Linked DNA regions of Homo sapiens: all the other regions are reported to be linked to region 1. Evidence: microRNA targets listed by miRTarBase, many of them from high-throughput screens and not tested one by one. Region 1 holds a microRNA gene; each other region holds the end of a gene's coding sequence. Distances are between the middles of the regions.

Region 1 (4,691 bases):
GATAGTCCACAGCTGCAGAGGCTAAACAAAAATGAGATGATAACATGTGACCTTTCTTAGGCAGATGGCTGGTTGGGGAAAGTAGATGAATGAAAAGAGGAAAAGATCTCCAGAAGAGCGGGAAGGTATAAAGTTTCTCTAGGACAGTTTCCCAAATCGTGCTTCATTGGACATTGACACAGGAGAAGGCTGTGGGGGAAAAGAAAATTCATGATCAGATAGGTATGGCAAATGCCTCATTCTATGGTTTCCTCTTTGAGATTCTCAATGCAACATTAGACTATTAAAGGCTCTGAAAAATCCTACAAGAAAACACCTGTATAACCTTGTGTGACCAAGTAATACCAAAATTTATTTGCCCTCTGAGTCTGCTATTTTGCCCTCTTCCTCCAGCCCTTGACACTGTTTCTCAGGAAGAAAACATCCTTCATGCTGGCTACTACCTCATATGCTCTATAACATTGTGGTGTTCACAGTTTGAATTTTTCAAAATCCAGGGTAGAATTTGGCCCCCAAACCTAAAGCTAGTGGACAAGAGGAAAGTCAATCAATCAGTAAATATTTATTATTTTCTGTAACTAAAGTACTGGGCTGTGGTAGGGGAGACAACAATCAAAGACATAGCCTTGTCTTCCAGAAGCTCACAATCTAGTTGGGAATTCAAGAATACCCCTTAGAAAAGTTCATTGACAATTTACGAGGTGCTATTAGACAGTAGGAGAGAAAGGCATACATACCAGGGCCCAGGGAAGAAGAGCTTTGTGAATGAAGAAGGAAAAAGTGTAAGTTGACTTTCAAAAGTCTCTGGAAACACTGGACTTTAGCTGGTCCAGGAAATATAGGGAAGAATTGGATAGGCAGGAATAAATGGAGAAAGTGTTCCTACAGGAAAAGACATGTGGAAAAGGGGAGAGGTAGGCAAGATCAAGGAGTGTTTAGAAGGCAAGACTGAGTATCAAGAAAGTGAATTTCTAAGCCCTGCTTACTCAGATAAGCCATTAGGCTTGTGTGAGAATGCTGATGTCCTAGATAGGAGACTCTGGGAGGGGAATATGAAGGAAGAAAATAATAATGAATCAAAGAGCACTTCCATTCCTGGACACTTTATACATTTTCAAGACTATTGCGCCCCCATCAGCACTCTCATGGTGTGTGTAGACACAGCCCAGGGCTGTATTTCCCTGAGATGCCACACTTTTCCCCTGGTGTCCTCAGATATAATGCCTCAGTTCCTGCAAAGTCACATAAAATAACTTGTGAGAACTTGGTGCTTGGTGAGCATCCTTGTATCCAGCTGGCAGTCCATTCGTCATATCCCATCTGCCCTGGCCTAGAGCTGGTAAGCATGTGCCGCACTTGGGGTATTTGACAAACTGACACTCTACCACATGGAGTGTCCAACTCAGCTTGTCAAATACACGGAGCGTGGCACTGCAGGAGGCCAGGCCAAGAGCTTCTGTGGGGAAGTGAGATCTTCCTGGGAGATGTGACCCTAGAGGGAAAGAGAGAGAAAGGAATGATGAAGTCACACCCTTAGCCCCGGGGATCTTGCTCAAAGGACCAACCAAAGCACCAGAATAGGGAAGTGAGCAAAATAGGCATAGGGTTCCTAACCAGAAGAGAGATCCTGAAGATAAGCAGGTAAAGCCCGAGTGACACCCAGTGCTCAGCTGGAAGCTCATCAGGCCTGAGTCCTGTAGCTATGGCATTTCTAGGGGTCCCAAGCTTCAGTGGGTTCCTCTATGCAGCAGAGAGGGGAAAATTTGGTCATCATCCTGCCTCCCTGACTTGAGGAAAGTACCAGACCCTAGAGTCAGCATCCTTGCTCCCTCTTCTCAATTCTCCCAAGCTGTGTTTTCAGTGTTGTGGTTATGCACATAGGCTTTGAGGTTAAACATGAGCTTAAATCCTAGTTCTTCCATTAGCTAGTTAGGCAACCTTGGATACATCATTTCACCTCTCTGAGCTCAAGTTTTCTACACCCACAAAATGTATGTAAGTATAATACCTACCTCATAAGGTTATTGTGAGAATGACAGGAGATAATGCATGTAAAGCCTTTGGTTCAGTATTCAATACATAACAAATGCTCAAAAAGTAGTGGTTGTGTGACCAAAATGAAAGAAAGAGCTATTGGCAATTGATTTAGCAGGATCTGGACAGGTGTGACATTGATTTCTTGTGGTCTCAGCCTTGCCTAACATGATCCTCTTGTCCCATAGGGACTCAAGAATGGCAGCTATTAAAGTGCCCTTAAAGATCATCTAGTCTCACTCACTTAGGTTATAAATGAGATAACAAAGGCTCCTGTTGGGGAGGAGACTTGTAAAGTTTATACAATAAATTTTTTACAGTTCAGCAGTATGCCTTATACAGCTTTCCTCATTGGTTATTTTGCCTCCCTTCTCTGTATATCCCTCTGGGAAAGGGAAGACACATCAACAAAGAGGGCAAAAACAGGCAATAGCTTTGTAATGCAACATTTGGGATCACTGAACCCACAAGCCACCAGGGCAATAAGGAAGCTGCCAGGAGCAGGGTCAGGTCTGAAACTTCTGGGAGAATTCCCTTGGCAACAATCAGATCCTGTTGCTAAAAATCCCAGGTTGCTGGTGTCAAATTACTGCCCTTACCAGCTGTGGCAGTTGATCTGTGAGCAGGTAGCTGGTCTACATTAAATATTGTCATGAAAAGTGGCAAACATCACAAGGTTACCAGAAATGGTAAACTGCCCCCATGAGGCCGGAAAGCCCTGTCCCAGCCCAGGTAAGACAGAGGGATTCAGCCTTGTCTTTCAGCAAGAAAACAATCAGTGTCTTTTCTTGCTCTATTCTTTTAATTGAATGTTAAGAAGGTAACATACTCCTTCAATTTAAGTTCTGGCAGTCATCTCAAAACTAAAGCTCTTTCACTCCCTCACTTCCTTTTCTACCTACCCAATTCAGCCTAATCCACCCAGCAGCAAAAGCAGCAGTCATGGTCACCAAATATGGCATGACAGAATCGACAAACTTGTGTTCTAATGCTGTCTTGGCCATCAACTAGCCAATCATGGCTTGGGCAAGTCTTTCTTTGGGTTTCAGTTGTCTTCTCTGGAAATGAGAACAAGGAGACTTACCTACTTACCTGGCAAAGTTGTTGGAAAGTGTTGCTAAGCTTTCCAGAGCCTCCCACATAGGAGCTCAAAAGGACCTTGTCTCAGCCCCTGGACCTATGGTTGGAGGCCAGCCAAGCAAGCTGATTAACAGAGTCTGAGTTGGGGATGGCAGGAGAAAAAGAAATGGATTGTTACCTTTTTTGTATCATTACACTCATTGGCTGTCAGCTCCAGTAAGAAGACCTAGATAAGCTGGAGGTGTTCACAGCCTTTTGAATGCACTTTCTGACTTTATTCACCTCCAGAAAGGCTGGAAAGGAGGCATGAAAGGGGCTAAAAATTATTAGTACTTTGAAATTTGTGGAGCCTTATAGACAACATTGCTTCAGTATTAATGGAAGGAGTTAGTGGTTGAGCTGAAACTAGACTGGTATGCCTCTCCAATGGAGTGTATGTAAGAAAATCACATTCAGTTGAGAAATGTTCACCAGACCCATAGAAAGAAGACATAAATATCTATATGGGATGATATTAAGGGAATTTGAAAGCTCTTCTCTTGGTCTGTTATATTACTTAGAATAACATCATTTTTCCCCATATGAAATGCAAAATCCTCTACTGAAGAGCGTCATCAAGCCACTATTGTTGATGCAAAGGATGGGTCAGTTTTTATGGAGGGAATTGGAGGGAATAGACCAGAAGAATTAGGGGTAAGTAGGTGTCTAGGAATCTCTGAACACTCAGAGTGAGCCAAGTACCTGAAAGAAAAATAGAAGAAAAGAAGAAGTCCTCAGGACCATGCCTAAAAATCCCAGACTGCCTCTAGTATGAGCAGGACCTGTCCTGGGTCAGTTACAGGACAGGTCCTGCTGCTTGATGTCTCAGTCCTCCTAGGATAGAGCAAAAAGAGGACTGACCTGGGAGCCCAGACCCAGCTGTGCTACAGATTCTCTGTATGACTTTGGGCAAGTCCCTTTCTTCCTCTTTCTGGACCTCAGTTTCTTCCATATGTACCTAGTCTCTAAGAGTCTTTCAATTTTGAATCTCTAGGAGTCAAAGATTGGACTAGAAAAGAGGCTTTCATCTTTGAGTCATGCCTCTCAGAGAGTGCTATATGGATTACCACCAGCACTCTCCTCTTGAATGTGTTCAGCCCCACCCACAGTTACATATGCAAAGATTACTCTCATCTTCTTTCTTGACAGAGGGCTGACAATCATGAAAATTAGGAATCTAATAACCATGGGTCTCTAGACAGCATCTATCTAATCATTCTTTTCCTCTTTTTACTTTTTTATTTTGCAAAAGGGGTGAAAAAACTGTGTCCTAGATTGGAGAAAGGACTTACCCAAAGATACACATTGGGTAAATGGTAAAACCAGGACTGCTACTCAGGTTTCCTGACTCCTGGGTCCAAAGGCCATTCCACTTCCATGTGACTATCTCCTAAACATCCTGATTGGATAGAAAATATCCTATCCCCTTTTCCCCTCCATTAGAACCTCTAGGATAAAAGGCCAATGGAAGCCTTCTTCCTCCCACCTTTGACCTTAATCCCTGAGGAGGGTCTGAAGAGAATGGGATGGGCAGATCC
Region 2 (4,691 bases), not on the chromosome of region 1:
ACACAGAAAAACACACCCTCAAACAAAAAGTCAGAGCTTCATTGCTTTATTGTCCTTTAAATGCTGTACTCCCTACTTCCTTGGCCTTCTGTCATCCACCTTTCAGAATTATCTGATAGTGATTTTATATATTCAGTCCAGGATTTTTAGTTGTAATCAGTAGGAAAGATCAGATGGAGTGTGCTTAGTCTACCTTAACTGGAACCAGAGCCCCTCTATGTAATTTGTAATGCTTTATCCAGTATTTTTCACTACATTGAATAGTTAAGGGTAGTATCCTTGAGTGTAGTGTAATTCAGTATATCAATCTATCCATATATTCGGGATCCAGCACCCAGTATTTGATATGTGGTATAAATTTGGCGATACAACCCTATTCTACCCTGTTTTAATTATTTTTGTTATTATTTTTATTGAAGCATAGTACCATTTTTGTTTCAACGTATGTATAGCTTTCCTGCCCTTGGCAGGGGGAGTTATCTTCATATTTAGACTATACTTTCAGTTTCTTTATGGTTGCCAAATCGACTTTTATTTTTCATTTGGATTACTGCTTTGCTTTGCAGTGTTGGAACTTATTTGTTGGAGAAATGTCTTCAGAGTCAGAAAAGGATAAAGAGAGACTGATTCAAGCTGCCAAAATGTTCTTCTTTCATGTACAAGATCTTGCTTCTGTCATAAACACACTGACTGAATTGTTTAGCCGCAGTATGAATACTCAAATCCTTTTGATGGCTGTGAAAAACAATAGTTACATTAAGGATTTTTTTGAGCAAATGCTCAAAATTTTTAAGGAGATGCAATCTGTAGTGGATGCAAGACATGACAAAATTCAAAAGGAGTCTTTATGTTCCAAGGTTGCAATGGCCATGTGCTCTGTGGTTCAGAAGAGTACCAATGTAGAGGAGTTGCATCAGTCAGCTAAAGAAGTATTCAAAAGTGCCCATACGCCAGTCATCATCTCTGTGCTAAACAGCAGTAACATCCTTGGGAGTCTGGAATCTTCTCTTTCACACTTGATGAAATTCCCCATCATGAATCTTCAATTAAGTGACTTCTATACAGAAGACACCAAAGAGCAATCAGATGTCACCACATCTGAGAGAACCAGAAGTCCTCCAGGTTCTTCCAAAACCACTATGATAGACACCTTGAAAAAACTGCAGGATGTACTAAAAACTGAGGATTCCAAAAATCCCACAAAGTCAGCAGCAGATTTGTTGGAACAAATTGTCAAGGCTATGGGACCAATCTTAGAGATCCTCCAAAAAGCGATAAAGACTATGGAAATGAATATTTCTGTGTTTAAGAAAGCCAGTGACAAGTAGGGATGCAACAGAAATGTTCATTTCTGTCAGAAAACTACTTAAAATCTTATGGTTTTTCATAGTAGTTTCTAAGATCTTTTGGTGCCAAACATGTGCTATGTTAGAACATAAGTACACAAAAGTCATCTGGCAAAACATTTACCTGTAGTTTTGCTTTATTAAAATAAAAAGAAATAATTAAGAAAGCCTGTTTGAAATGTCAGTCACTAAGAAGAATATATTGTTGAAAAAAACAAAGTGGTATTACATTTGAGGATGTTTCTAAATATTGTGTTTCATCTTAAAGCATAATTAAAACAACCCTAAAGTAGTTCCCACTCTTAACTATTCTATTTCCAGTGAGAAATCCAGGTAAACTGTAAATATTATCATTAGATAGAAAATCTAGGCCTGGGAAACAAAATAAACTCCATTTTTGTCACTCATATACCAATTTCTATATACTTCAGTACCTTGACGATCAGAAGCCATCACTAAATATTTTAAATATGATTCATAAGTAAGTGAGAACAGTGAATGAGCAATAATAGACTTTTCTTGCTTATGTGAGTAAGACCAGAACAGATAGTTCATTCTCACTTGTCTCCTGAGGTCTTATGATTAGAAAATACTAGAGGTGGAAAAATGGAAGTACTCTAGCCTTTCACAAAGAAAAGACTTTCACAAGGAAAACACTTGCAGAAGTAGGATATCTGAGATGTGCTTTATTTAAAGAAATGAGATAGGGCAGTCTCTTTGTCTACCATAAGTCTTTGGTTCTCATGCATTGTAAATGAGTATGTACTCCTAAGATTGGTGTTGAAGTTAACTATTTCACATGATACCTGATAGAACTCTGTTGAGAATAGGAAAAGCAATAATAACTCCAAGCCAAAGCCATCATTGTAATTCCCATTGTCATTTAAAATAAGGAGTCCCTTCTCCATCCTCATATAATTTCAAAATGTTTGGTAGGGAGGGTCAAGTGGATTTTGACCATTACCAGAGCTTGGAGGTTCTGGAAAAAACGATGAGTTTCAATACATTAACTCTCATTTTCTCTCCACAGCAAAGCTGAAACCTTGCTTATTTGTAATAGGTTTCTATTAAGAACTCTATTATTTTGAAGAGGATGTTAAATTGATTCATTTGCTACCATACACATACACACACACACACACACACACACACAGAGGGTGAGAGAGAGGAGAAGGGAGACAGGACTCTCACTTTGCTACTTTTTCTGGACCTATATGTGTCTAGGGTTTCAATCTCCTTTTAGTTTTAGGATTATGTTTCAGAATGTTGGATGCAACAGCTAGGGGGATTCATATGGAAATGAATGAGACAAGGACCAAGAAAAGTCTTGGTGCATAGTCTTTCTGTGAGGTGACTGGAAGAATAGCTGGTGGCAGTTCACAGGAAGTCCTTGCCAGATGCCAATGGGAATGACAACCAGGGTGTTAGAGATGGGAAGTGCCCACTTCAATAAAGATGAGTGGTCTTCCAGTGCTGGTGGCTGTTGTTAGGCTGGTGATCACTTACAGTGTTTCACATTTTCCCACCACTGGGTACCACCAGTCTGACCACTCTAATGACATCATGTCTGCTGCTGCCTCCTGGCTTCTGGAAATACTGAGGAAAAGCTGTATTTTTTTCTCAAACCTATTACTCACATTTAATGTTTCTCTCAAATACTTTGGTTTTGGGTTCCTCTCATTTTCTCTAATATCCTTCAGTTTTTGAAGAACAAAGTGGGGTGTGTTTCTATACTATGCCTGGTCTCATTCCTCCTCTAGGCTGTGAGCATGGGATGGCCTAGCTGTTTGAATGAATCATCAGTAGGGAGGAAAAAGTGAACTGCCACACAACACAACACATGATCATTTACTATTAAAAAAAATGAAATACTATTATACTTGTAATTTTTTTTATTAGTTGCCAGTGTTTGCTGCATCTTGGTATTTCTGAAAGCACCTAATAAATGCTTGTTGAATTTTACCAAATCAAGAGCTAGTTCATTCAGTGTAAATCAATTTGATTCATATTATTAGACAACTCAGTACAAGAATCCTGATTCTTCTAGCAAAACAAACTTTACTGAAATTTTCTTTCATTGGATTTTTTTTAAAGTAAGAGTAAATAGAGAACTTCAGGATAATCTAATAGGCGTATTAAAGAGAACACCTTGTTATAAAAATAAAGTATTACATGGGTTGAGTGTTTTTACTTTTTAAATTTTTCCTGTTTCAATCAGCTTCTTCAGATTAAACAGTATATTTCTGTACACATCAAAAGGAGACATACATGTATTTGTTTAATAAAATTACTATAGGACATAAGTACTCCTTACAGCACAGTCTCTGTTAACAGTTGCATGAATTTACACATATTTGAGCATCCGCCTTATCTTTGGAAGATATCCCAGGCTAACAAATTTATCCCAGCAGAAATTACAGTGAAATTTCTAAAACTAGTCTCTTAGAGTTTCATAAACATGTAACTTAATCAATTTAAATCAATACTCTACAGATTCCTTGCTCAACAACTTTGGACTATAGGGAGAGACTGAGGGGATGTGAGCTATGTACATTTATCCTTAACCAAACTCATGAATCTACATAATTTTAAGAGAATAGTTTCTGTCTCCAGAGATTTGATCTGTAAAACAGCAGCAGGAGTTAGAACTAAGTTATCTTTTTTAGAAACTTGGCTATTCCCTTAAGGATCATAATTGTGTAAGTCACAGTGTTCTCAAATGTTGGTGTATAGCAGAATCATCTAGAGGACTTATTAAAACAGACTGTTCAATTTCTGTAGTCTGTAGTCTGGGATCAGGCCCTAAAATTCACATTTCTAATGAGTTCTTAAAGGATGCTATTGCTGCTTGTGCCTAGAGAGTCAACGCTTTAGGAGAATTGTCTTACTCAGAAAATTATGACTTCTCATGGAAATCAAATGCTTTTGGCTGACTTTTTAGCTTCACTGAGTGGCTTCCAATTTCCTCTCCAGCCCACATTACCCCTCACTCTCTGCCAGACCTATCTGCTCCCTGACCTTATGCTGTACATACATCGATCATTCCGTATTCGCTTCTATTTTCTGCTTTCCTCTAAGTAAAACATCATCTCTGATAGAAAGCTTTATCTAACCATAGGCCAGAGGAATCACATTTTTCTCTCAGCTCCAAGCATTTAATATTTGGCCTTGTTTTGGGCACTACGCACTTGGCACATACTCTTTCTTGTTTTTTTCTCCTTCTGCTCACCCCTTCTCCCAGCCTAGAGCCCTAACGGCTGGTTCAAATGCAGCCTCTTACTTAAAGCCTTCCGGGTGTCTCTTCTTGCCTCAGTTGGAAGAAATCTTTCTTTTGAATTGTTATGA
Region 3 (4,691 bases), not on the chromosome of region 1:
GGAGATTACATTTTCTATTCTCTGCTTTCTGGCACATGCAAGCCAGATATGGACAGGAAACCCTCAATATTTATTCATTTTTCTAGTCAAGGCTTTCTAGGATGATAAAATAAAATTTTACATCTAGCTGCATTGCAAGTCAGAAAATACCTTCCTGCAAATATGGAAGATGACAAAACTCAGTTTCAACCAAGCTGAGCTGCTCTTAAATATTTGTAGCAAAGGGATTACGTTCATAGGTCTGAGCACTTACTTTTTAACCTCTTCCCTTCTCCCCTTTCTTCCCTTTCTTTTCATGACTATTCTCTCCTAAACTTGCTAAACTCCCAGGAAAAAGGGAAAATGGCCTGCTAGGGAGAACAGTTTCAATAATGAAAATCATTTCTCTGAAATATAACTAGCTTTTACAACGATTCTCAAATTTGTTATTGGATAGGCAGTTTGGCAAAAACCTAGAAGGGAATGCTTATTAGTTTATTAATTTATTTGTTAATGGCCCAGTTTTTATTGAAACTTTTGCATGTCTATTACTCTTTGGAAAATAATTAACAGCTCCATCCTATTGAAATGGCTTGTGTACAGAGCACACATCAACCAAATAAAATCCATGGCTTTGTAAAGGATAAAAAAAAAATTAAAATAATTTATTTCACCAAGTTCTCCTTGGCACTGAATTCTACTTAAAGCATAATTCATACAGTAGAGAATTTGAGTACACGGGGTATGGAGAGTAGGGCACAAAATGTTTCCATACATTTGACTTTATTGATTTGAAAGCAAAGTTACTGAAATGCCTCAGTTAGTTCTGCATTTTAAAAGGTGTCTACCTGAAAGAAACAAAAAGTGTGTGTGTGTATGTGTGGCGGGGAAGATGGAAGATTATTCACATGCTTGAAGGCTATTCACACTGCTTTAACAAATAAACATGGAACATACGTCCTTAATTAACTGTGGAGTTAATAGTCTGTCTCTTTGTCCTGATGTAATTTAGATCTTAATCTAACCCCAACCCTAAACTATATCAAACCCAGGCAGAAAAACTGAAGTTACAGGCAACTACCTGGGCTAATCTTAGGTTTTTTTCTCAAGAGTGAGAACCATATTCTCCTATTTCCATTGACCACAATTTGGTTCCACCACCTTTCTACATCCTCAATTCACTCCCAACAGTAGTTACGTTTTCACAGGGGAGGAAAACGCCAGTACAACAGGGTTCTTGCATCAAGCTTCATGCTTTCCCAGACATTTACTCAAGGGAACGTGGAGAGGAGGAGGAGGAGGGAGCTGGAGTGATAAGCAGATGTTACACATGTTTTTCCTGGAAAGATCACCCCACTTTTTCTAATTTCCCAGAATTAAAAGAATGTATTTTATCTGTATTACCATGGAAATTACTAGTAACACTGGATTTTTTTCCCTCTTTTCTAAGTTTCCAAAAACTTTCAGAAGTGTTCAAAGAAATTTTCTTGAACAATTTTAATATGTTTGATTTCTCATTTGGGGCTGGAATATTTGTATTCTTTTTAATTTTTTTACTTCATTTATTAGAAGAGTTTCTAATATGTGTAGGAATACAATTTTAAATGTAAGATTATATAGATGTAGATATAGATAGATAGATATATGTAGATATATAGATATAATGTCACAATATCACTATAAGGCATTCCTTCTTCCATTCTTTTTATATCTCCACAGAACTGCTCTCATGGGACCCTGTCCTGCCCTGTAGGTAAAAGCCCTTCTTATTTTCCGCTGAGAGGTCTACCCACTTTCATAGGGTGTCCAGTCAATTTGTGAGTACAGTCCACTGGAGTCTTCATAACATCAACCCTCTAGGTGAGATCTGTAATAGCTAGTTAATTATCTGGGAATTTTTAAACATTTGGATATTGCAAATAATGTGAATAAAATACTTGAATTTTAAATAATTAAATTGTTTCTTCAAATGTTTTAGCGTTTATGAAAAAATAATGCACCAAGATTTTGGATTTCTAACATTTCTGGCTGTATGAGAGAGTAAAGGGTTGGCACTTTATTAACTTGGGGGCAATGTAGACATATGTTGAAGCTGGTTCTGGAAGTGCACCCTGGAAATTTTTATCTGAGTTCCTTGTCAATCCTACACAATTGCATGCAATGAGAACTTCATGATTGTAGCATTGATCTGGCCTAGCTCTGGACTGCTTGATGAAGGAGTTTCTTTGAAGTGAGCAATACTGGCAAATATGAATGAATTCACACCACTAGCAATTGTTGGCAGAACACCCAACCACTCTACCCAGTTTCAGAATGTGAAATGGCATGTATTCAGCAGGGCATATTATTCTTGAAGTCACAAAAATAGGGAAAATCCAACAAGCGCAGTCAGTGTTTACCTGAAGAATACAGTCACATAGTTGCTTCACTTTCAATATTCTTAGGAAATAACCAAATAAATGAGCTACAAATATGAGAAACTGAGAGTGTGTGAATGAAAGAGAGCAACAGAAGGAGGAAATACAAGACTAGACAATGTAATCTTCTACTTAACATTTCAGAATTTTATTAATCCTTTAAAAATCACCCTATTTCTTTTGAGTTAATATCCTCATCTCGATTACCCTCATACATGGCTTAGTTTGATTCTGTTACTAAATTCTGTGAATCATTATTTAATCAAATCTACTAAAGATTAGAAAAAATTCTAGCAAGACTTATAATCATGAAATACAGAATTAAAAGTTTAAACCTACCAAAAGTCCTATGGCCTATTATTTAGCTGTGAATGAGACACGTCAGGAGTATAAATCTGCACTTTTGACTGTAAGTAAAATTTGCTAATGCAGGAAGCGAAATAGTGAAGGAATACTGGGGTTGCTAAAAGATTACTTTTTTTTTTTTTTTTTGCAAAATGCAGTGTACCTTAAAAGTGTCTCACCTAGAAGGCCTCTACCTGTAATCACATTAATTTTTCTAAAGACAATTTGGTGTTTTGAAGATAAATGTCATTAGTCTATGATAATAGCATCATAGGACAATTAGCCATTTTAGACTTGACCATATTTTCTCTTTTTAGCATATAGCCATCTTGATATTTAGGTGGGAGACTACTCCAATGGAGCAACAGTTTCATTTTACATGATTGGATTTAGAAATTTACAAATTTTAAACTCATAAGAATTCTAAATAATTTGAAAATGGAAACATTTGACCCACAGTCTAGCAGCATAAATACATTTATAAAATACTTCATTGTTGATCTTAGGTCATTGATTTAAAACAGAATTTGGTGACTATGGGCAGGTGGAGGGGGCCAGTGAGGAAGGTATAAAAGAGAAATCTTTATGAATTGTGTTCAGATTGATTTTGTATAAACATAATATATTCATGGTTGTATCTCTTATTTATAATACCCAACTAACATGAAGGTGGTCCAAGGGAAGGATCAATATTTTAAATAACATATTTGCTTAAAATATCATACAGTGGCTGCTTCATAAAAATCTTATAAACTTTTATTAACCAAGTTCAGAAATAATTAGAGGGGTGATCTCCCTGGATCAGAACTAAAACAAGTGAGATCAATTAAGCTCCTTTGAAATAGGTCTGTCCACACTTAATATTCTTTTTTAGACCAATTTAGCTGGAAATCTATTACTTAACCCACATTCATTGATATCATAGTCTTGTCTTATATTTCTTTGCCTTAGGCAGGATTTTTCTGTGATTCTGATTGTGTCTGACTACAAGCTGAAGATATCTTAATTAATAACAGGGCAGGAAGAATTGAGTGGGGAAAGAAGGCCTTCGGACAGTAGATAAGTATCCAAAGCAGTGTGGGCAAAAAGAGTAAGCAACATCCCCTGGGATTTTTCCCATGTGGGTATCACTGAGCAAAGCTGCTGTGGGAAGATATGTAGATTAATGGGAAATGCAGGGTTATTATGGAGGAAATAACTCACAGGATGATTTCATAGCCTGGCTAAATTACTACTTGATTAACTCCTGATAAAACTCAGAGCGCACAAAGCGAGGCAGAGAATCCTTTTCCATCAGGGCATGGATTCTTTTCTGGGCCATGTCAAAGCTGCTCAGGGAAGGTTCCACCAGGTTCTTCATTGTGATGTCCTTAGTGAAGTGGTCAATATTCACCTGTGGGCCAGGAAACAGGGTCACTACATAAGCCTAAGTTATAGAATTTGATGAGGGGTGAAGAGGGAGGTGGAATTTCTCATCAATAAAACATAAGAGGGGAGGAAAGTCATTAAAAACTGAGACATGTCACTTCTCACTTTATAGGCGATGGGATAAGGCAGCTGATGTTCCAACAGATGCATCCAACCGGTATTAGACACCCACCAGGTGTCAGACCTCCCATAGAAGCTAACACACACATTACTTATTTAATCCTTGACAACAATCCTAAGAATGATTCTTTCCTTTTATAGAAAAAAATATTATATGCAGAAGGTTAAGTGGCTTCCCCAAGATCACAGAACTGATAAGTGTATTTGAATCTAGAGAATCAGAATTTGAATCCAGGTGTCCTGGTGCTTTTTTCTTTTTCTTTTTTTTTTTTTTTTTTTTTTGTTGGATAGAGTCTAGTTCTGTCACTCAGGCAGGCTGGAGTGCAGTGGCGCCATTTGGTTCACTGCAACCTCTGCCTTCCGGGTTCAAGTGATTCTTCTGCCCGAGCCTCCCAACTAGCT
Region 4 (4,691 bases), not on the chromosome of region 1:
CAACACCATGCCTGGCTAATTTTTCTATTTTAAGTAGAGACTGGGTTTCGCCACATTGGCCAGGCTGGTCTCCAACTCCTGACCTCAAGTGATCTGCCCGCCTCAGCCTCCCAAAGTGTTGAGATTACAGGCGTGAGCCACTGCACCTGGCCTGGGGTATGTTTACTAAAATATTCCTTTGTAAAATGAAGCTAGCTGCTTTGCAGAATTGAGAATAAAGTTTAGATATGTACAAACATACGTGTGTGTAGGTAGGTGGAAAGACAGAAGATAAAAGTGCCCTCTACTATCGTATTTCTCTTCTCTCCCCTTTCAAGACCAAAATGACTCAGAACACAAACTCATGTATCAGGCCAATTAAATATCTGCTTAAAGGATTGCCCTAAAGGACTATTTTGAGTCCGCCTTTTTTAAAGTGTTTTACTTATTTAAAAAATATGGCTGGGCACAGCGGCTCACGCCTGTAATCCCAGCACTTTGGGAGGCTGAGGCAGGCAGATTACCTGAGGTCAGGAGTTTGAGACCAGCCTGGCCAACACAGTGAAACCCGGTCTCTACTAAAAATACAAAAATCAGCCAGGCAAGGTGGCAGGTGCCTGTAATCCCAGCTACTTGGGAGGCTGACACAAGACAATCGTTTGAACCCAGGAGGCGGAGGTTGCAGTGAGCCGAGATCACGCTACTGCACTCCAGCCTGGGTGACAGAACGAGACTGTCTCAAAAAACAAACAAACAAACAAAAAGTTATTCCTAGTTCTACTGAAACCTCGAACTATTTAGTCTTATTTTATATACCAACAACTTCCCAATCAAATCCCCTTTAAGTCCCAAACATTCAGCTTTTGTTCCAGAGGTCTGTGGAAAAGCAAGCTTTGTTATCAATGCAAAGGAAAGTGATCCATTCTTGCTGTGAAGCAAGTTCCAGGGAGGAAAGGAGTTGCAGCCAGAGATGTGATTCCAACATTCCCAAACGCTTCTGTCTGAGACCTTCAGATTTTGTTTGAAACAAATTCTCAGAATACCAAACACACCTTTATTCAAGTGGAAGTACAAAAGCACATTCCTAAACCAAACGCATACATGTGATTTTTACATATTCTGCTTTTTAGGGATTACATAATCCTGTTTCAGTCACCATACGTGACTACTGGTCTCTATACATAAGGGTATACATGTTTGACAGGAAAAAACACATGCATTTTTCATTTGCTTTTACATTTAGATCAATTCATTTATATATCAATTTCATTTAGATTCCTACCTTGCCTTGATGAAATCCTACTCTTGCTGATGGCAAAGAAGTAAAATATAGTGGCAGAACTATCCTAGAGGTTAGCCATAGGAGGATTATAGAGTGAGCAACATATTTTTATATATTTGTTGAGGGTCCCTACTGAATATTATAACACTGAACTATGAAAGCCTCAATTGCTGGACTGACAACAAGAATTTTAAATAACATTTGTCTTACTCACAAAATGTTATAAAGCTTAAGATGGAAAAATACAAAATGTTTTGACATTACCTAAAGAATCATGAACTCTTGTTAGGTATATGATGGTGGCCCTGAACTTGAGCCAACATCTGTAATCACTTTTATCAGTCAAAAAGCCATGTTCTTTTATATAGCCTGTAGACTATTAAAATACAAAAATGTGGTAATGGATAAACAACTATACACAAAGCCCTCACACTTCAAATACTGTCCTGGATTGATGAGAGAGGAGCAGAATTCAAACATTTATCTGCAATCCTAATGGTTAAAATTTTACCAGGAACAGACCTGCCACTCTCTTGAAATACTGTCTCTGAGATTAACATACGAACAGCATCATCTCTGTTGGAAGGCTACATTCCCTTATGATGCTGATTTGTGTGTGTGTGTGTGTGTGTATGGTTTTTTGTTTTTGTTTTTTTGTGTTTTTTTGAGAGAGAGTCCTGCTCTGTCGCCCAGGCTGGAGTGCAGTGGTGCAATCTCGGCTCACTGCAACCTCCGCCTCCCAGGTTCAAGCAGTTCTCCTGCCTCAGCCTCCTGAGTAGCTGGGATTACAGGCGCGTGCCACCACACCCGGCTAACTTTTGTATTTTTAGTAGAGACGGGGTTTCACCATGTTGGCCAGGATGGTCTCGACTGCCTGACCTCGTGATCCATCCGCCTCAGCCTCCCAAAGTGCTGGGATTACAGGTGTGAGCCACCATGCCCGGCCTGTGTATCTTCTTTATGTTTACCCTACCAAGAGCAGACCTGAGCATTTTGCTGGCCGTAGAGGTATATAAAAGAACTCTAAGCTTAGGCATGCAGAATAGGCACTGGATGAATGTAGTGAGGCTATTAGGAGTCTTGTTGGCTCCCTGATGTCCTTATCATGTCTTCTTCGCAGACTGTGGATGCACACAAGACAGCTAAAACCTTGGGCATCATTTGAAAATGTTTGGCTGCCTGCTACAATCTCAGGAGAGAGAATCCTTCATACTTATATTGGACTGGATATATTGTCAATCAAATTCTTTTTTAAAAAAAGATGCTTCACTTTAGGAAATAAGACACCAGACCAGCAACATCAAGTAGGTATGGAATACTTGCTGGTGAAACACTTAAAACTAGGAAACTTCTAAATCTTCTAAAGGTGCTTAAGAGAATGGAGAAGTTAATCAACAGGAATCCAAGTGTTGTGGCTGTAAAGCAATACGACATAAGATCCCTAGTAAAGAGCAGGCCTAAGAGTTGGTTTTGGAAAGAACTTGGGCCAAGAACAGCAGAAAAAGCTAAATGAGCTACTTACGTCGATGTGTTTTAATACTGGTGCATTAGCAGTATCTTATGGAAGTTGTGAACACTAAGAACCAATTTCAAAAAATATAAAAATGTTTATAGGGCATATTAAAATAAAAACAGCTTAAATGAGTTCTATAAATAAAATAGGCCCAGCACAGTGACACACGCCTGTAACCCCAGCACTTTGGGAGGACAGGTGGGAGGATCGCTTGAGGCCAGGAGTTCAAGACCAGCCTGGGCAACAAAGCAAGACCCCATCTCTGTTCTTTTTAATATCAAAATTATAATAAAAAAGTAAAAATAAACGTACCTACTTAGAATACATATTAAATAAAGGAACTCCATGAGAAAATGTCACTGCATTTACCAAGTCAACCCTAGATTTTTGTGCAATGAAAAAGATTGGGACTATGTATTAACAATTTCATAAACAAATAATCAACAATTTTCTCTCCATTATTTCGATGTTGGGTAAAGCCTGAAATGTGGTGTCGAGTTTTTCCATTTGCGTTACATCAAATTCTTGTCTACTATGGATATTCTGATATGACAAAGACTAGTTAAACTCCTATTGAAAGATCTGCCATTTACTACACCCAAATAAGTTCTCTTAGGTATAAATTCTTTGATGTTGAATGAGCGTTGGGTTATGACTGAATCTCCTCACACACATACATGCTTATTACATTTATAATCTTTTTGCATGGCGTGAATTTGATACTAAACAAGGTAGTTTCTTTGACTGATGGCTTTTTCACATTCATTGCAGCAATGGAATTTTATTCCCATGTGAATTCTCCAAATGTGACTAAGGTATGAAAATACTAATAGCATGAAAAATTTGCCACATTCAATACATTTGTAAGATTTCTCACTGGTATAGATTTGCAGGAGTCGATTAAGAGTTTAACACTAATACCTTTTCTTCATTCGTCACATTCAGAGGGTTTCTCTCTGGTGTGAATTATCTGATGCTGAGCAATGGCTGAGCTATGACTGAAGGCTTTACCACATGCAGTACATACATGATTTCTCCCTGGTGTGAACTCTCAGATGCTGAATGAAGCCTGAATTTGATAAATATCTTCCCATCTTCATTACATTCATGAGTTCTCTTTGGTATGAATGCTCTGATGTTGAACTAGATGTGCTCTCTGACTGGAGTTCTTTTCCCATACATCACAATCAAAGGCTTTCTGTCTGGTGAGGACTTCTTGTTGCAGGATAAGATCTGAGCTATGACTGAAACTGCCCTCATACTCATTACATTCATACGATTTCTCTTTCCTATGCATTTTGTGATGCTGAATAAGGCATGAGGTTTGACTGAAAGCTTTTCCACATTCATTACATTCATGTGCTTTCTCTCCTGTGTGAATTCTTTGATGCTGAATAAGATGTGAATTCAATCTGAAGTCTTTTCCACATTCACTACACGTATAGGGCTTTTCTCTGAAATGAATTCCTTGTTGTTTAATATAGGCCAACCCATATTCATCATACTCATAGGCTTTCTCTTCATGATGGACCCTCTGATGTTCAAGTAGGTATGAAGTATGGCAGAAGTCACTGCCACATACAGTACACTTACAGGGCATCTCTTTGTGAATTTTCTGATGTTGAGTAAGGTGGACACTACGACTGAAGACTCTTTCACAACTGCTACATTTGTAAGATTTGGCTCTGGTGTGAATTTTCTTATGCTGAATTATGCCTGAGCTTGGACTACAGGATTTATCAGACGCTTCACAGGATTTATCAGATGCTTCACATTTGTAAGGTTTTTCTCTAGTGTGTATTCTTTTATGTCGACTAAGACTTGAGCTCTGACTGAAAGACTTTTCACATTCTTTACATTTGTAGGGCTTCTCTCTAGTATGGATTCTCTGATGTCTAGTAAGGGCTGAGCTCTGAT
Region 5 (4,691 bases), 9.4 Mb from region 1:
GAAAGAATTAGCATCACTTCTTTGGAACAGCAAGGCAAGGAAATTTATTGCACTTTCAGAACTGTCTTTCACTATTTTTCAGTTGCCTTCTTAGTAGAAATGTTGGGTAGGCAAGATGAGATATATGCTTAAGCACTTGCAACCTCTTTTTCTCTTTATTTGATAAACATAAAGTTATTTTCTGTGTATCTTTCACTGAAGACCTAGGCCAATACATTTGCTTTCTGCCCAAACTTAAAGGGAAGAATACCCTAAGGCTAGGATTCCAGACAAGACAGAATGTTGGGCCTACCATAGGGTCATGATTCCAAAGAGACATTCTCAGAGCCACTTTTATTTTTCCAGTTTTCCTGGAAGAAAGCAACCTGCTGTCTGGAATCTGCCTGTTTAACTCAGTGGCATGAGAGCTTGCAGCCTTCTGTGGCAAGGATAACTCACACTGACTGGCTGGCCTCTGTCTTTAGGAATCTAGATTTCACACTTAAGAAAGCACTCTGAATGGCACATAAAAGACACTGTGCTGTGCAGAAACTGTAGGGGATGGCTACTGTCAACTTTTTAATCTCAAAATGCCAAGTATATTATTATGCTGTGAGTATGAGAAAAGTGATTACCTGTACATTCAGCAAGCTGATTCAGAGTGTGCTCTCCCAAAAGGCTGGAGGTCAGAAACAAAAACATTTGTACCATAAATGATGTTGCTTGTTAATCCCAAAGCCTCTTATTTTCTAGATACCTCATTCCTTTTTTAGAAACACACCATCACCTAAAGTACTGTAATAGCTAACTCAATTATGTCCGGTGGAATAACAGCAAAACAGGGTAATTTTGTGGGTAGCAAGATGCAAAACATTCCATTAAAGTCAGATTATGTTGAGCTGTCATCATAGCTATTTAAGTCAAATACCAGCCAGTATTATAGATCAGATAATGCTGATAAATAATCTTAGTTCATAGTATAGCAGGCTGACTATTCTTAGAATGTGAATGTCTGGTTACAAATGCTTCTGTGTTACACATCAGTCTTTAGAGGTTTGCAGGTATCTGTTGCCTGCAGAGATTGAACAAGAAGGAAAACTGCCAGTGAATGAATACCCACCCATATAAGGCACGGGGACATTTGATCATCTTCACGTTTCAACCTTGCAGATTATCCAGAAGGCTCATCATCTCTTGCTGTGGAAACGGAAACATAGCAGTTTTCACATTTCCTGCATCTCTCAGACAGGTCAGTATTCTGAGGGAGACACATACAGTGGCACCTGGACTGCTAAGAAGGCGGCTTGGGAGAAGAACTAGAAAAGAAATAAGTTCTTATCCTGGGTGAAAAAGATTTTAAATTCTTCACTCTTGTAATGCATGCATAAGCAGAAGTTCTATACATAATTTCCCTTGGCAGTGTGCTGAAAAAAAAGATGCCCTTATTCCCTGCAAACTCACACTTATGTCACTTGTGCTGAAAAAAACTCCGGGGATCCAGACACCCAAACATTCCGTTAAGGTTATTTACTCTCATACTGTGAATTATAAGCCTCCTCCTGTTTCATTCCAGGTCTCTGAAATGGTACAGATTACAAATAGCTTTCTTTTGCCTGACTCCATTATGTCAGTTAATAACCTAGTCTTCCCCACTAAGGGCAAAAAAGCATCCTTCCTACACTGTAACCCTCCTAAAATGCTATGAGTTTGTTAAGTAGTGGCAGACAACTTTACACATGGGATTCTCTTTGGCCTGGTGAAAAGCTCGACGACCTTCTTTTTGCAACACTCACAGGTATAAACCCAGTGTAATTAAATATTAAAAGAATGTTAGTAATAGAAATACCATAGAGCTTATAGCTCTGATCGGATGAAACTTCTAATCCTATTCTCATGAAAAAAGCTAGCAATTATTCAGAAGCTTACAATCTGTTCGTGGGTTCCCAGGTCTTCAGTTCTTTCCCTTACAGAAATTCTGCTGTGTACAAGTGTACATATTGTATAAAACTTTGTATATGCCAGCCACTTTGGTGTGTACTTGATATATATGATCTTATTTAATCCTCACATCAACTGTAAGATGAATGTTACTATTCCCATTTTACTTATGAGAAAACTGATATGCAGAGAGGTTAAATCACTTATCCAAGTCTGCATATGTAGTAAGTGGCCAACCTAGGGTTGTAACTCAGGTCTATCTGACCTCAAAGCATGCTATTTCCACCATGGCACTACATTTCAAAATCTGAGTTATTTGTGATGTGTCTTTATTTATTATCAAAGATTAAAAAAGGAGAGAACCAAGTCTGTTTCCTTATCCAAAGCCCTGATGAAATGTTTGATGTTTAGGTAAGACAACTTATATGATAGTAATATCTAGATTTGGGTTATCTGTGGTGCTAATCTGTCTATTTTATTTTAGTATTTTCCTAGGGGAAACACTACTACTTTGGCATGGTAACAGATGTTAAAGGGAAGAAAAATTATCTGGTAAATAAATTTATAAAACCCTATATAAGCAAAATTAGAAAGTTGGCTTTAGTGTAGGAATTCTCAGGGGTTTTACTACACTATTGAGTTTTGTGGCTCACCAAAAGGAGGTTGTAGTGGTCCCTTAAATTTTATTTAACTGTTGGATCCTTTCTTTTTTGTGCCTATCATGGAACCTAGTATTTCGTGCAATACTTATCAGGACCATTAATATGCTAAGGAACTTTGAAATGCATTTTTTATATACTTCCCTAGATAAGCAAAATTGCCTTCAAGCAATGCCTTATGCCTTTTACAGGGCACTCTGTCCAAATATATTAATAAAGTGATTCATTTTGTGGAAATCACAAACTCATATATACATATATATATATTTTTTTTTTGAGATGGAGTCTCACTCTGTTGCCCAGGTTGGAGTGCAGTGGAGTGATCTCGGCTCACTGCAACCTCCACCTCCCAGGTTCAAGTGATTCTTCTGCCTCAGAACCCAAGTAGCTGGGATTACAGGTGTGTGCCACCACGCCCGGCTGCTTTTTGTATTTTTGGTAGAGATGGGGTTTCTCCCTGTTGGCCAGGCTGGTGTCTAACTCCTGACCTCAAGTGATCTGCCCACCTCGGCCTCCCAAAGTGTTGGGATTAGCCACCGTGCCGGGCCTCATATTCTGATAATAATAGAAAAGTACTTGGGAACACAGGAGGGAAGAGTGGGAGAAACCTTTTAAAACTTATTAAGATATGAAGAATTGTTTAAACTGTATGTAGATAATTACTACAGTGATATTTGTAAAAAGCTCCAAACTGAAAACAACCTGAATGTCTATCAGTAGAAGAATGCATTAATACATTATATATGTCCAAGTAATTAGATATTTAATATATATTTCCCTTCATTTTCTTTTGAAGTTTTTTAAATAAAAAAGGATGAAAGAAAACATGAATCCCTTGTGTTTAAAATGTAGAATCAATGCTAATTTTTTCATTTTGCCTCTAAATTTTGTATATAAAAAATTATTGCCATAATTTTTACCCCAAAAATGTACTTATTCTAGATTATATTTTCTTCAAAATGAAAAGACAAACTTGAAAAATATTTGCAAACTATACAACACACAAAATTTAATATGCTTAATTTACAAAGCTCTTGCAAATCAGTAAACAAAAGAAAAACACAACAGTTAGAAAATGGGCAAAGCAACAAAAGAAAGCAATGAGGAAAGAACTCTCTATTCAATTAATGGTGCTGGGATAACTGGCTAGCCATATGCAGAAGACTGAAACTGGACCCTTACTTTTCTCCATATGCAAACATTAACTCAAGATGGATTAAAGACTTAAATGTAAGACTTCAAACTATAAAAATCCTAGAAGCAACCCTAGGAAATACCCTTCTCAACATTGGCCTTGGCAAAGAATTTTTGGCCAAGTCCCCAAAAGCAATTGCAACAGAAACAAAAATTGACAAGTGGGATCTAATTAAACTAAAGAGCTTCTGCACAGCAAAAGAAATTATCAGTAGCAAAAACAATCTACAGAATGGAAGAAAATATTTGCAAACAATGCATCTGACAAAAGTTTAATATCCAGAATCTATAGGGAACTTAACAAGCAAAAAAAAAAAAACAACCCCATTAAAAATGGGCAAAGGACATGATGAACAGACGTTTCTCAAATGAAGACATACAAGCAGCCAACAAACATATGAAAAAAAATGCTCATCATCACTAATCATCAGAGAAATGCAAATCCAAACCGCAATGAGGTACTATCTCACACCAGTCAGAATGGCTATTATTAAAAAGTCAAAAAATAACAGATGCTAGTGAAGCTCCAGAGAAAAGGGTATGCTTATACACTGTTGATGGGAATGTAAATTAGTCCATCCACCGTGGAAAGCAGTTTCAAGATTTCTCAAAAACACTTAGAACTGCCATGCCACCCAGCAACCCCATTACTGGGTATATATACCCAAGGAAAATAAATCCTTCTAACAAAAAGACTTATGTACATATATGTTCATCACAGCACTATTCACAGCAGCAAAGACATGCAATCAACCTAGGTGTCCATCAACAGAGGACTAGACAAAGAAAATGTGGTACATGTATATGATGGATACTACACAGCCATAAAAAATAATGAAATCTTATCCTTTTCTGCAACATGGATGCAGCTGGAGGCCATAATCCTAAGAAAATTAACACAGAAACAGGAAACCAAATAAT
Region 6 (4,691 bases), not on the chromosome of region 1:
TACTAGATGGATTTTTAAGTATTTTGTGTTAAAGCAATTGGTAGATTACAACACTCTATACAGAATCAAGGTGTTATGATCCTAGGCCTACACAGATTTTTCTCTATTTTTGTTTTGGAAATTCCTTACTGCACAGGAATGCAGGCCTAAAATTTTTATTTGGTTTCTTTTCTTTTCCTTTTTTTTTTTTTTTTTTTTGAGATGGAGTTTCACTCTTGTTGCCCAGGCTGGAGCGCAATGGTGTGATCTTGGGTCACTACAAACTCCACCTCCCGGGTCGAAGCAGTTCTCCTGCCCCAGCCTCCTGAGTAGCTGGGATTACAGGCATGTGCCACCTCGCCGGGCTAGTTTTGTATTTTTAGTAGAGATGGGGTTTCTCCTTGTTGGTCAGGCTGGTCTTGAACTCCTTACCTTAGGTGGTCTGCCTGCCTTGACCTCCCAAAGTGCTGGGATTACAGGCATGAGCCACCGCACCTGGCCTCATTTGATTTCTTAAGGTCATCATCAACCCTAATTTTCCGTTTGTTCTTAATATCTTTCAGATTTGGAGTCTCTCTACCTTTGGTCTTCTCCATACTTTTGTCAGTGAACATGCTCGGCAGTCCATTTTTAGAAATATTGGAACTGGAGTGATGCAAATTGAGACAGGGCCTGCAAATCACATTTTCTCCTGTGGAGCTGATGGAACAATGAAAATGAGAATACTGCCAGATCAGTTTAGCCCTTTAAATGAAGTGTTGAAAAATGATGTGAAATTTATGCTATAACATTTTTACAATAAGATGTACAATTTATTACCTATATGGAAGTGGCCAACAGATATAATATACAGTGATCATTCTCTATGCCACAAATTAGCTAATGCTTTCTTGTTTTTATATTTATTTTATGGAGCTTTGCCCTTGATGCACTGATGCCTTAAAAATTAACAAGGTCATTCAGAAGTAGATTACATTGCCTAAAGTAGAATGTGTAAGTAATGCTGTAATAATACATATCATAGTATATTATAATCAGTATGTCATAGTGTTAAAGGTGTTTTGTTTTCTTATTGATACTTTTCCACAGGCATCTCTGCATGAATTTCTTCCACAGTAAAAATACGTTTTTTGTAAAGGCAATTGTACATAATACTCATCACTTAATTCACCACACTCTCACTTCCTTTATTAGCCTTATACATCTCAAACTCTTCTCTTAATTAATGATAGGTATTTGAGTAAGAATGAAAAAAATAATGAACATCTTCATTAAAATTGTCATTGAGACGTCAGTGATAAATGAGCTAGATGGCTCAATATGTAAGGTTTTCAGTAGTTTACCCTCCGGAACCCAAGTTGTATGTATGTATACGTGTGTGTGTGTGTGTGTGTGTGTATCTTACACATCTTATTTGAACTTAGTTGTATATATTAGCGAAAACTGGTTTTTCATGTGTTTTTGTGCCATAACAACTATTGCCACCAGAATAACTTTTTTTTTGCAACTGTGCTTTTCATTTTTAAAAAATTTTTGAATTCCCATCCTAATTTTCAAATAAGTTTCAAGGAGACTATCAGGATTATTATTTTAAAGATTAGATTTAGTCAAATAAGTCTTAGCAGGCAATAAAGTTTCTGTGGTGGCATATATCATGTAAGACACTTAAAGTAAGTTTGTGAATTTGTCAACTTTCGAGCATCAAACAAATATTTTACTTAAATTTTATTTTATCTTATTTTTAGGTGCTTTTAATCTCAAAATTCTGAAAAGCGAATAGCAGTGTTTTCAGAAACAAATGTGAAAGCAGTCAAATTAAGTAGATACTATTTAGAAATGTAAAATACTCTCCAGATCTACCATTAATAGAAAATAAACTAAACCTTATATTTTATTTTTGCCAAAATATTTTATTATAAAATATGACCAAAATATTTAAAATGCACAATGCTTTTAACTTAAATGTGCTAACCCTGTTTCTGTCTGTTTTGTGCTGTACCTTTTCTGATTCAGAATTATAGAAAACTTGATAAATACTTGATTTTAACCAATGAGACTACAGGCAGATGGGACTAAGTGTTTATGGGACAATTATGTACTATTTAACTTAAATATATTTTGTTTAATAGGAAATATATAATAATAGCATTTTATGTAATAAAATATGGGCAACGATTATCTTGGAAATTAAAGAGTCAAAGCAAAGAAATGAAGGGCTGGTAAAATGAATTTTGTAATATCCTCAGGATACTTTTATCTTAAAAGTATGTTGTTAAAGATTTTGTAAATTGTATTTCAACAATTTTAAATGTGTTGAGCAAGTTGCAGTGCAAACACTGTCATTATGTAGAGAGTTTATATGCACATAATAACCTGTACCTATAAATCGTGCAATAACCATATGCGACTATTTTGCCATGGAGAAATCTGACAGCATTGCAAACAATAGTATTGTTTGATGTAGTTAACCTTAAGTTATTTTTCAGTAATTTCTTCACAAATCAAGATTCAAACAGCTTTAAACACTTCCAATGAGATAAAATATTTACTATTATGCTTATTAGAACAAAAGGTGTTTAAGGATGAACTAAATATTTTAATTGAGCATTTATATGGATAATCATACATTATGTAAGCCCATATGTATTTACATCCAGAGTCATAATATTTTAAATAAACAATCATGCAGAAACTTTTTTAGGGGGTATACTATTGTTTTAATATCGTTGCCAATTTAGCTGACTTAAAATATGTGACATTTTAAAATCAAGAATTTCCATATTTGTATTTGGTTAATGTAAGGAGGATGGAATAACTTTCCCGAATACCCTGTTCTTTTCTACCGTCTTTTTAAGTTGATAGGTAAGCAGCATTCAAGGAAGGTGGGAATAAAAATTGTTGAAATGTTTAAATATAAAATGATATACATATATGTAAAATTTCATTATCCACATTAATGGAGTGGATACATCAAAATACATTTTTTAATTGTGTGTTTCCTAAGAATGTGGCTTTGTGATCATATAAGGATTCACAACATTAACAAATCTTATTTTCTGATATCTAGGATTTTTCTTAACTAAAACCATGGACCAGTCATCTCCATCCTCCTTTCTTGCTCTTTGCCCTTGCCCTCCCTTCTTTGAAAAAAAAAATATTTTTTAGAAGAATTGCAGAAATTTCTCACATTGGTCCCAACAATGGAAACACAATACAAAGACACATTCAAAGAAAAGTCTATACAACCTTAGGGTGGAAGTGATCTTTTTAACAAGATTGGAAACACAGACATATTTTACTTAATAAAAAATTTAAATGTCATATGGCAGGGACCACAGTCAAAGTTAAAACAACAAGTAGACTAGAAGAAATATTTGTATAGTAATAGGAAACATGTCAGTGTCCCTGTATACAAAGAGAAGTTTAAGTTATTGGAGAAGTGGTCACACTGTGAATAAGCAATTCACAGAACAGGACATTGAAAAAGTCAACAAATATAAAGTGTGTTCATCTTCATTATAAGGGTTAATGGATTGTTTTTTAAAAAGTATTACTGTAATACTAGTTTTTATCAGATTGGTTTAAGGTTAAATAGTGACAATATCCATTTTGGTGAAGATGCAAGGAAATTGGCAGAAACATTGCTGGCAAAGTTATCTGGGTGTGAATTAAAATCAAATACACATAACTTTCAGTGAACAACCTTCTGAGAAATTATAAAAATAAAAGCTTCCATGCATAAAAATGTAAGGACACAGATGTTTATTGAAACATATTCTAGAGGCCAGATGTGTTGGCTCACACCTGTAATCTCAGCACTTTAGGAGGCTGAAGCAAGCACAGGTCACTTGAGGTCAGGAGTTTGTGGCCAGCCTGGCCAACATGGTGAAACCCATCTCTACTAAAAATACAAAAATTAGTGGAGTATGGGGTTGTGTGCCTGTAGTCCCAGCTACTCAGGAGGCTGAGGCAGGAGAACCACTTGAACCCAGGAGGTGGAGGTTGCAGTGAGCCGAGATCATGCCACTGCACTCCAGCCTGGGTGACAGAGCAAAAGTCTGTCTCAAAAAATAAAAATGAAAAAAAAAAAAAAAAAAAAACTGGAAATCTAAATGTTAATTAGCAAGTAAATGGTTGAATAAATTATGGTACATACATGTAATATTATAGAATATTCTCTCACCACTAAAAAGAATGTTAGATATGTATATGTTGGCCTGAGAAGAGGCTGATGAGGAAAAAAAATTACAGAGCAAAAGATACAATATCCTAATTGTTTAGACTTTTTAAAATATATATGAACAAAGAAATGCATGTGGAAAAAATACACAAAACTTTTAGCATTGGGAAAAGGAAGAAGGCTGTAATATTTTCCCAAACTCCTTTAAACCTCACTCAGTAAAGTAATACCAAAGATAGTTTTGTTGAATGTGTGTACGTGGGAAAAACAGCTTTATTTTTAAACCAAGTAGTACTTCATGACTTTGGGAGCTGCTCTGTTGAATAAAGTGATCTGGTGTCAGGAACACTCCTCTTTGAATTGTTGAGATATTTTTGGTGAAATTTATTTAAGCTGAATGTTAAAATGTTACCCTTTGGAGCAGGAGTCCCCAGCCCATGGGTGACAACTGGTACCGGGTTGCACAGCAGGAGGTGAGTGTTGGGCAAAGCTTCATGTGTATTTATAGCTGCTCCCCATTGCTTGCATTACC
Region 7 (4,691 bases), not on the chromosome of region 1:
TTTTAATTTTATATTTTAAATTTTCTAAATTTTTGACCATTGTTTTTCTGTGAGTTGGGAATATTGTGATGAGTATTTAGTTTGGTGATGATATATATTGTATTCTTTTAGCACAGCTATAGTGTCATTTCATAATAATCACAATCCTTTGTCATCTAAATTTGATAACAAAATAATCCACATGCCATTGTACCTTAAAAGTGCAACATTCAAAGTCTACCTTTCTCTTCTTTTCTTGATTTGTCATAATGGTATACACTGGTAATAAGCACATAAATTGTAATGATCTAGCAATACACACATCACTCAAAACACTCTCAAATTAAAACAATGTCACTGTGATTTGTTGTGCACCGAGAAGCAGTATGAAGCTGAGACTCAGTTCTTTTTTTGCAGCATGAAAGCAGCTATAGACATCAGGTAAATTAATGAATGTGGCTGTATTCCAATAAAACTTTATTAATAGACACTGAAATTTGAATTTCATATGATTTTATGTGTCAAGAAATGTAATTTTTGGTTTACTTTTTCTCAATTATTTAAAAATATAAAAATCATCCTTAGCTTGCAAGCCATACAGAAACAGGTGGTGGGCTGGATTTGGCTCACAGGCTGAAGTTTGCCAGCCCCTGCTTTAGACCATGGTGAGTATGTTGGGCTTCACATCAGTTCAGAAGGCCTGTTTACTGTGTGTATAAGAACGTTTTCCCAAAAAGCCAGTGCAGGCCCTGAAAGCATTAACCAAGCAGGCAGGCTAACATGATGCATCTCCTTGCAGGATGGTACCCGAGTCGTAGGGAAATGCGGTGGTTACTGTGGAAAATGCACTCCATCCTCTGGTACTGGCCTGGAGGTGCGAGTTTTATAGCTAAGGTAAGTAGTCCTATGTCTGTCTGTCTGTGTATTTGTCTTTTATTTTTTTCTGTAGCCTATATGAGCAAATGTGGGAGGATCAGGCAGGGTTACAGTTAAGCATCTTGAAGCTGACCCAATACAGTTCTACCTTTTTATCTCCTGCTCCTCTGTCCTCACGTGACTGAAGCCATCAGTTCTCTGCCATTAGACATGGCTTCCCCTCTACAGAGCTGGCCTATTTATTTATTTGCTTTTAGATTTTAGATTCAGGAGGTACATGTGCAAGTTTGTTACACTGTTATAGTGTGTTGAGATGTAGGCTTCGTTTGAACCCATCACCCAAATAGTGAAAGTAGTATCCAATAAATAGTTTTCCCTTCCCTTCCTCCTCCCTTTTGGAGTTACCAGTGTCCATTATTTCAGTCTTTATGTCCATGTGTACCCAGTATTCCACTCCCACTTATAAGCAAGAGCATATGGTATTTGATTTTTTGTTTCTGTGTTAATTCACTTAGGAAAATTGCCTCCAGCTGCATCCATATTGCTGCAAAGGACATGATTTCATTATTTTTTATGGCTGCATAGTATTTCATCATGTATACAGACCACATTTTTAAAATCCAGTCCACCATTAATCGGTACCTAGGTTGATTCCACGTTTGCTATTGTGAATAGTGCTGCAATAAACATGTGAGTGCAGGTGTCTTTTTGGTTGAATGATTTATTTTCTTTTTGATATATACCCAGTAATGGATTGCTGGGTCAAATGGTAGTTATATTTTTAGTTCTTTAAGAACTCTCCAAACTGCTTTTCACAAAGGATGAACTAATTTACAGTCCCACCAACAGTGTATTCCATTTTTCTCTGCAGTCTCACCAATATCTGTTATCTTTTTACTTTTTAAGAATCGCCATTCTGATTGGCATGAGATGTTATCTCAGTGTGGTTTTGACTTGCATTTCTGTGATGATAAGTGATGTTCAGCATTTTTTCTTATATTTGTTGGCTGCTTGTGTGTCTTCTTTTGAGAAGTGTCTGTCCATGTCCTTTGCCCACTTTTTAATAGGGTTATTTGTTTTTTTCTTGTTGATTTGCTTAAGTTCCTTATAGATTCTGGATATTATTCCTTTATCAAATGTATAGGTTAAAAATGTTTTCTCCTATTCTGTAGATTGTCCATTTATTCTGTTGATAGTTTCTTTTGATGTGCAGAAGCTCTTTAATTTAGTTAGGTCTCCATTATCAATTTTCATTTTGTTGCATTTGCTTTTGAGGACTTAGTCATAATTTGTTTGCCTAGGCCAATGTTCAGAAGAGTATTTCCTGGGTTTTCTTCTAGAATTTTTATGTTTTGAAGTCTTACATTTAAGTCTTTAATGTATCCTGAGTTATTTTTTGTATATGGTAAGAGGTAAGAGTTCAATTTCATTCTTCTGTATATGGTTAGCCAGTTTTTCCAGCACCATTTATTATAGGGTGTGCTTTCCCCATTGTTTATTTTTGTTGATTGTGTTGAAGTCCAGTTGGTTATAGATGTATAGCTTTATTTCTGGGTTCCTTATTCTGTTCCATTAATTTTTGTGTCTATTTTAGTACCAGTACCATGCTGTTTTGGTTACCTTTAGTTTGCTGCCTTGGAGTAGAGTTTGAAGTCCGGTAATATGATACCTCTGGCTTCGTTCTTTTTGCTTAGGATTGCTTTCGCTTTTAGGCTCTGCTTTGGTTCCATATCAATTTTAGAATAGTTCTTCTTCTAACACTGTAAAGAATAACATTGGTAATTTGATGGGAATTTTGTTGAATCTGTGTATTTCTTTGGGCAGTATGGACATTTTAATGCTATTGATTCTTCCAATAGATGAGCATGGAACGTTTTTCTATTTGTGTCATCTATGATTTCCTTAAGCAATGTTTATAATTCTCCTTGTAGAGCTCTTTTACCTGCTTGATTAGATGTATTCCTAGGTATTTTATTCTTTTTGTGGTGACTGTAAATTGGATTGCATTCTTGATTTGGTTCTCAGCTTGAATGTTATTTGTGTATAGAAATGCTTCTGATTTTTGTACATTTATTTTGCACCCTGAAAATTTACTGAAGTCATTTTTCAGGTCTAGGAATCTTTTGGTGGAATATTTAGGGTTTTCTTTGTATAGAATCATATTGTCAGTGAAGGAAGATAATTTGACTTCCTCTTTTCCTCTTTTGATGTCTTTTCTTTCTTTCTCTTGCCTGATTGCTCTGGCTAAGATTTCCAATACTATGTTGAATAGGAGTGGTGAGAGTACACATTCTTGTCTTGTTCCCATTCTTAGGAGGAATGCTTCCAACTTTTGCCTGTTAAGTATGATATTGGCTGTGGGTTTGTTAGAGATGGCTTTTATTTTGAGGTATGTTCTTTTGATGTCTTATGCCTTGTAGGTTTTTATCATGAAGGGATGTTGGATTTTATCTAATGCTTTTTCTGCATCTATTGATATGGTCATATTGTTTTTGTTTTTAATTGTTTGTGTGGTGAATCACATTTATTGACTTGCATATGTTGAATGATCCTTGCCTGCCAAGAATAAAGTCCACTCGATCATGGTAGATTATCTTTTTGGTATGTTGCTGGATTCAGTTTGCTAGTATTTTGTTGAGGATTTTCATGTCAATGTTCATCAGGGATATTAGTCTGTAGTTTTCTTTTTTTCTTGTGTTTTTGCCAGGTATTGGTATCAGGATGATAGAGGTTTCATAGAATGAGTTAGGAAGGAATATCTCTTCTTCGATTTTGAAAAAATTGTTTCAATAGGATTGGTACCAGCTCTTTGCAGAGCTTATTTAAAAGGCTGTTTATTGGGCTGCATCTCTAGGGGTCCTGCTTCATTAGGTCTCTGGTGGATTCAGGGATCTGTAACTTTAATACAGAGAATTCTAATGCAAGTGAATCACAGCTCATCCTTTGAGAAATACATCCCAAGAATGTAATAGTAAAACTACAGTGGCATTTGTTGAGCAATATTTCATTGAATCCTCACAACAAAACTGTGTGGAGGAGCTGCTATTTTACATATGAGGAAGCTGAGGCCCACAACAATTAAGTAACTTGCTTAAGATCATGATGAGGCTGGGCACGGTGGCTCATGCCTGTAATTCCAGCATTTTGGGAAGCTGTGGCAGGCAGATCACTTGAGGTCAGGAGTTTGAGACCAGTCTGGCCAACATGGTGAAACCCCATCTCTACTATAAATTCAAAATTTAGCTGGGTGTGTTGGCACATGCCTGTAGTCCTAGCTACTTGGGAGCCTGAGGCAGGAGAATCGCTTTAACCTGGGAGACAGAGGTTGCAGTCAGCCAAGACCACGCCCCGCCACTGCACTCCAGCCTGGGTGAGAGAGTAAGCCTCTGTCTCAAAAAAAAAAAAAAAAAAAAAAAAAATGAAAAGGTAATGATAAATTCCCTCGGCAGAACTCAGAGTGTCCTACACTAAAGCCAGTGCTCTTAATCACTCCACTGTGCCACACCCCTGTTACTCATGGTGTGGTCCAAGAATCAGCTCGATCAGCTTTACCTAGGAACTTGTTAGAAATGCACAATGTCAGGCCTCACCCTATACCTGTGAAATCAGAATCTGCATTTTAACAAAGTCCACAGGAGTCATGCATGTTAAAGTTCGGCAATCCCTGACCTGAGTACATTATGCCAGAAGGTGATTCTTCTGCTGAGTAAAAGACGGAACTGGTCAGTCTTTTTATCATCCCCATGTCTTCAGCTGCAAGGAATGAGCTCAACCAATTCATGTGACCCACCTGCATCTTCCCTCAAGCTTCCAGTAGCCCATTACCGTGTAAGGCT

The links. The annotated mature microRNA hsa-miR-223-5p reads CGUGUAUUUGACAAGCUGAGUU and lies in region 1 at 1,400-1,421, opposite strand. An mRNA with a match to its seed (bases 2 to 7 or 8) in the 3' UTR can be bound and repressed. Matches are read on the target gene's strand: a 7mer-m8 pairs with bases 2 to 8, a 7mer-A1 pairs with bases 2 to 7 and ends in A, and an 8mer does both.
Region 2: miRTarBase lists C12orf60 as a target of hsa-miR-223-5p. The part of its 3' UTR that is shown has no 7-base or 8-base seed match.
Region 3: the mRNA of RGS5 is a reported target of hsa-miR-223-5p. Seed matches in the 3' UTR shown: 7mer-A1 at 851-857.
Region 4: miRTarBase lists ZNF655 as a target of hsa-miR-223-5p. Seed matches in the 3' UTR shown: 7mer-A1 at 2,208-2,214 and 7mer-A1 at 1,889-1,895.
Region 5: miRTarBase lists ZDHHC15 as a target of hsa-miR-223-5p. The part of its 3' UTR that is shown has no 7-base or 8-base seed match.
Region 6: the mRNA of DMXL1 is a reported target of hsa-miR-223-5p. The part of its 3' UTR that is shown has no 7-base or 8-base seed match.
Region 7: the mRNA of ADAMTS9 is a reported target of hsa-miR-223-5p. The part of its 3' UTR that is shown has no 7-base or 8-base seed match.

The regions. Positions count from the first base shown.
Region 1 is chrX:66,015,625-66,020,315 of GRCh38, reverse strand. It overlaps MIR223 (microRNA 223), which reads right to left and starts at 1,446; the gene lies at 1,337-1,446. It overlaps MIR223HG (MIR223 host gene), which reads right to left. Exons shown (of 3, transcript NR_170299.1): 2 at 3,127-3,251; 3 at 1-1,492.
Region 2 is chr12:14,822,346-14,827,036 of GRCh38, forward strand. C12orf60 (chromosome 12 open reading frame 60) reads left to right here. Exons shown (of 2, transcript NM_175874.4): 2 at 567-2,070. The coding sequence starts at 591. The coding sequence ends at 1,328. ART4 (ADP-ribosyltransferase 4 (inactive) (Dombrock blood group)) reads right to left here. Exons shown (of 3, transcript NM_021071.4): 3 at 3,224-4,691. Among named protein-coding and RNA genes, the nearest start is that of SMCO3, 11 kb to the left of the region's middle.
Region 3 is chr1:163,143,370-163,148,060 of GRCh38, forward strand. It overlaps RGS5 (regulator of G protein signaling 5), which reads right to left. Exons shown (of 5, transcript NM_003617.4): 5 at 1-4,134. The coding sequence ends at 3,973. Among named protein-coding and RNA genes, the nearest start is that of RGS5-AS1, 16 kb to the right of the region's middle.
Region 4 is chr7:99,572,773-99,577,463 of GRCh38, reverse strand. It overlaps ZNF655 (zinc finger protein 655), which reads right to left. Exons shown (of 3, transcript NM_138494.3): 3 at 1,011-4,691. The coding sequence ends at 3,880. Among named protein-coding and RNA genes, the nearest start is that of ZNF655, 16 kb to the right of the region's middle.
Region 5 is chrX:75,375,657-75,380,347 of GRCh38, reverse strand. It overlaps ZDHHC15 (zDHHC palmitoyltransferase 15), which reads left to right. Exons shown (of 12, transcript NM_144969.3): 11 at 1,150-1,228. The coding sequence ends at 1,196. Among named protein-coding and RNA genes, the nearest start is that of UPRT, 100 kb to the right of the region's middle.
Region 6 is chr5:119,246,453-119,251,143 of GRCh38, forward strand. DMXL1 (Dmx like 1) reads left to right here. Exons shown (of 44, transcript NM_001290321.3): 44 at 543-2,675. The coding sequence ends at 767. Among named protein-coding and RNA genes, the nearest start is that of MIR5706, 94 kb to the left of the region's middle.
Region 7 is chr3:64,518,348-64,523,038 of GRCh38, reverse strand. ADAMTS9 (ADAM metallopeptidase with thrombospondin type 1 motif 9) reads left to right here. Exons shown (of 40, transcript NM_182920.2): 39 at 779-873. The coding sequence ends at 868. Among named protein-coding and RNA genes, the nearest start is that of ADAMTS9-AS1, 41 kb to the left of the region's middle.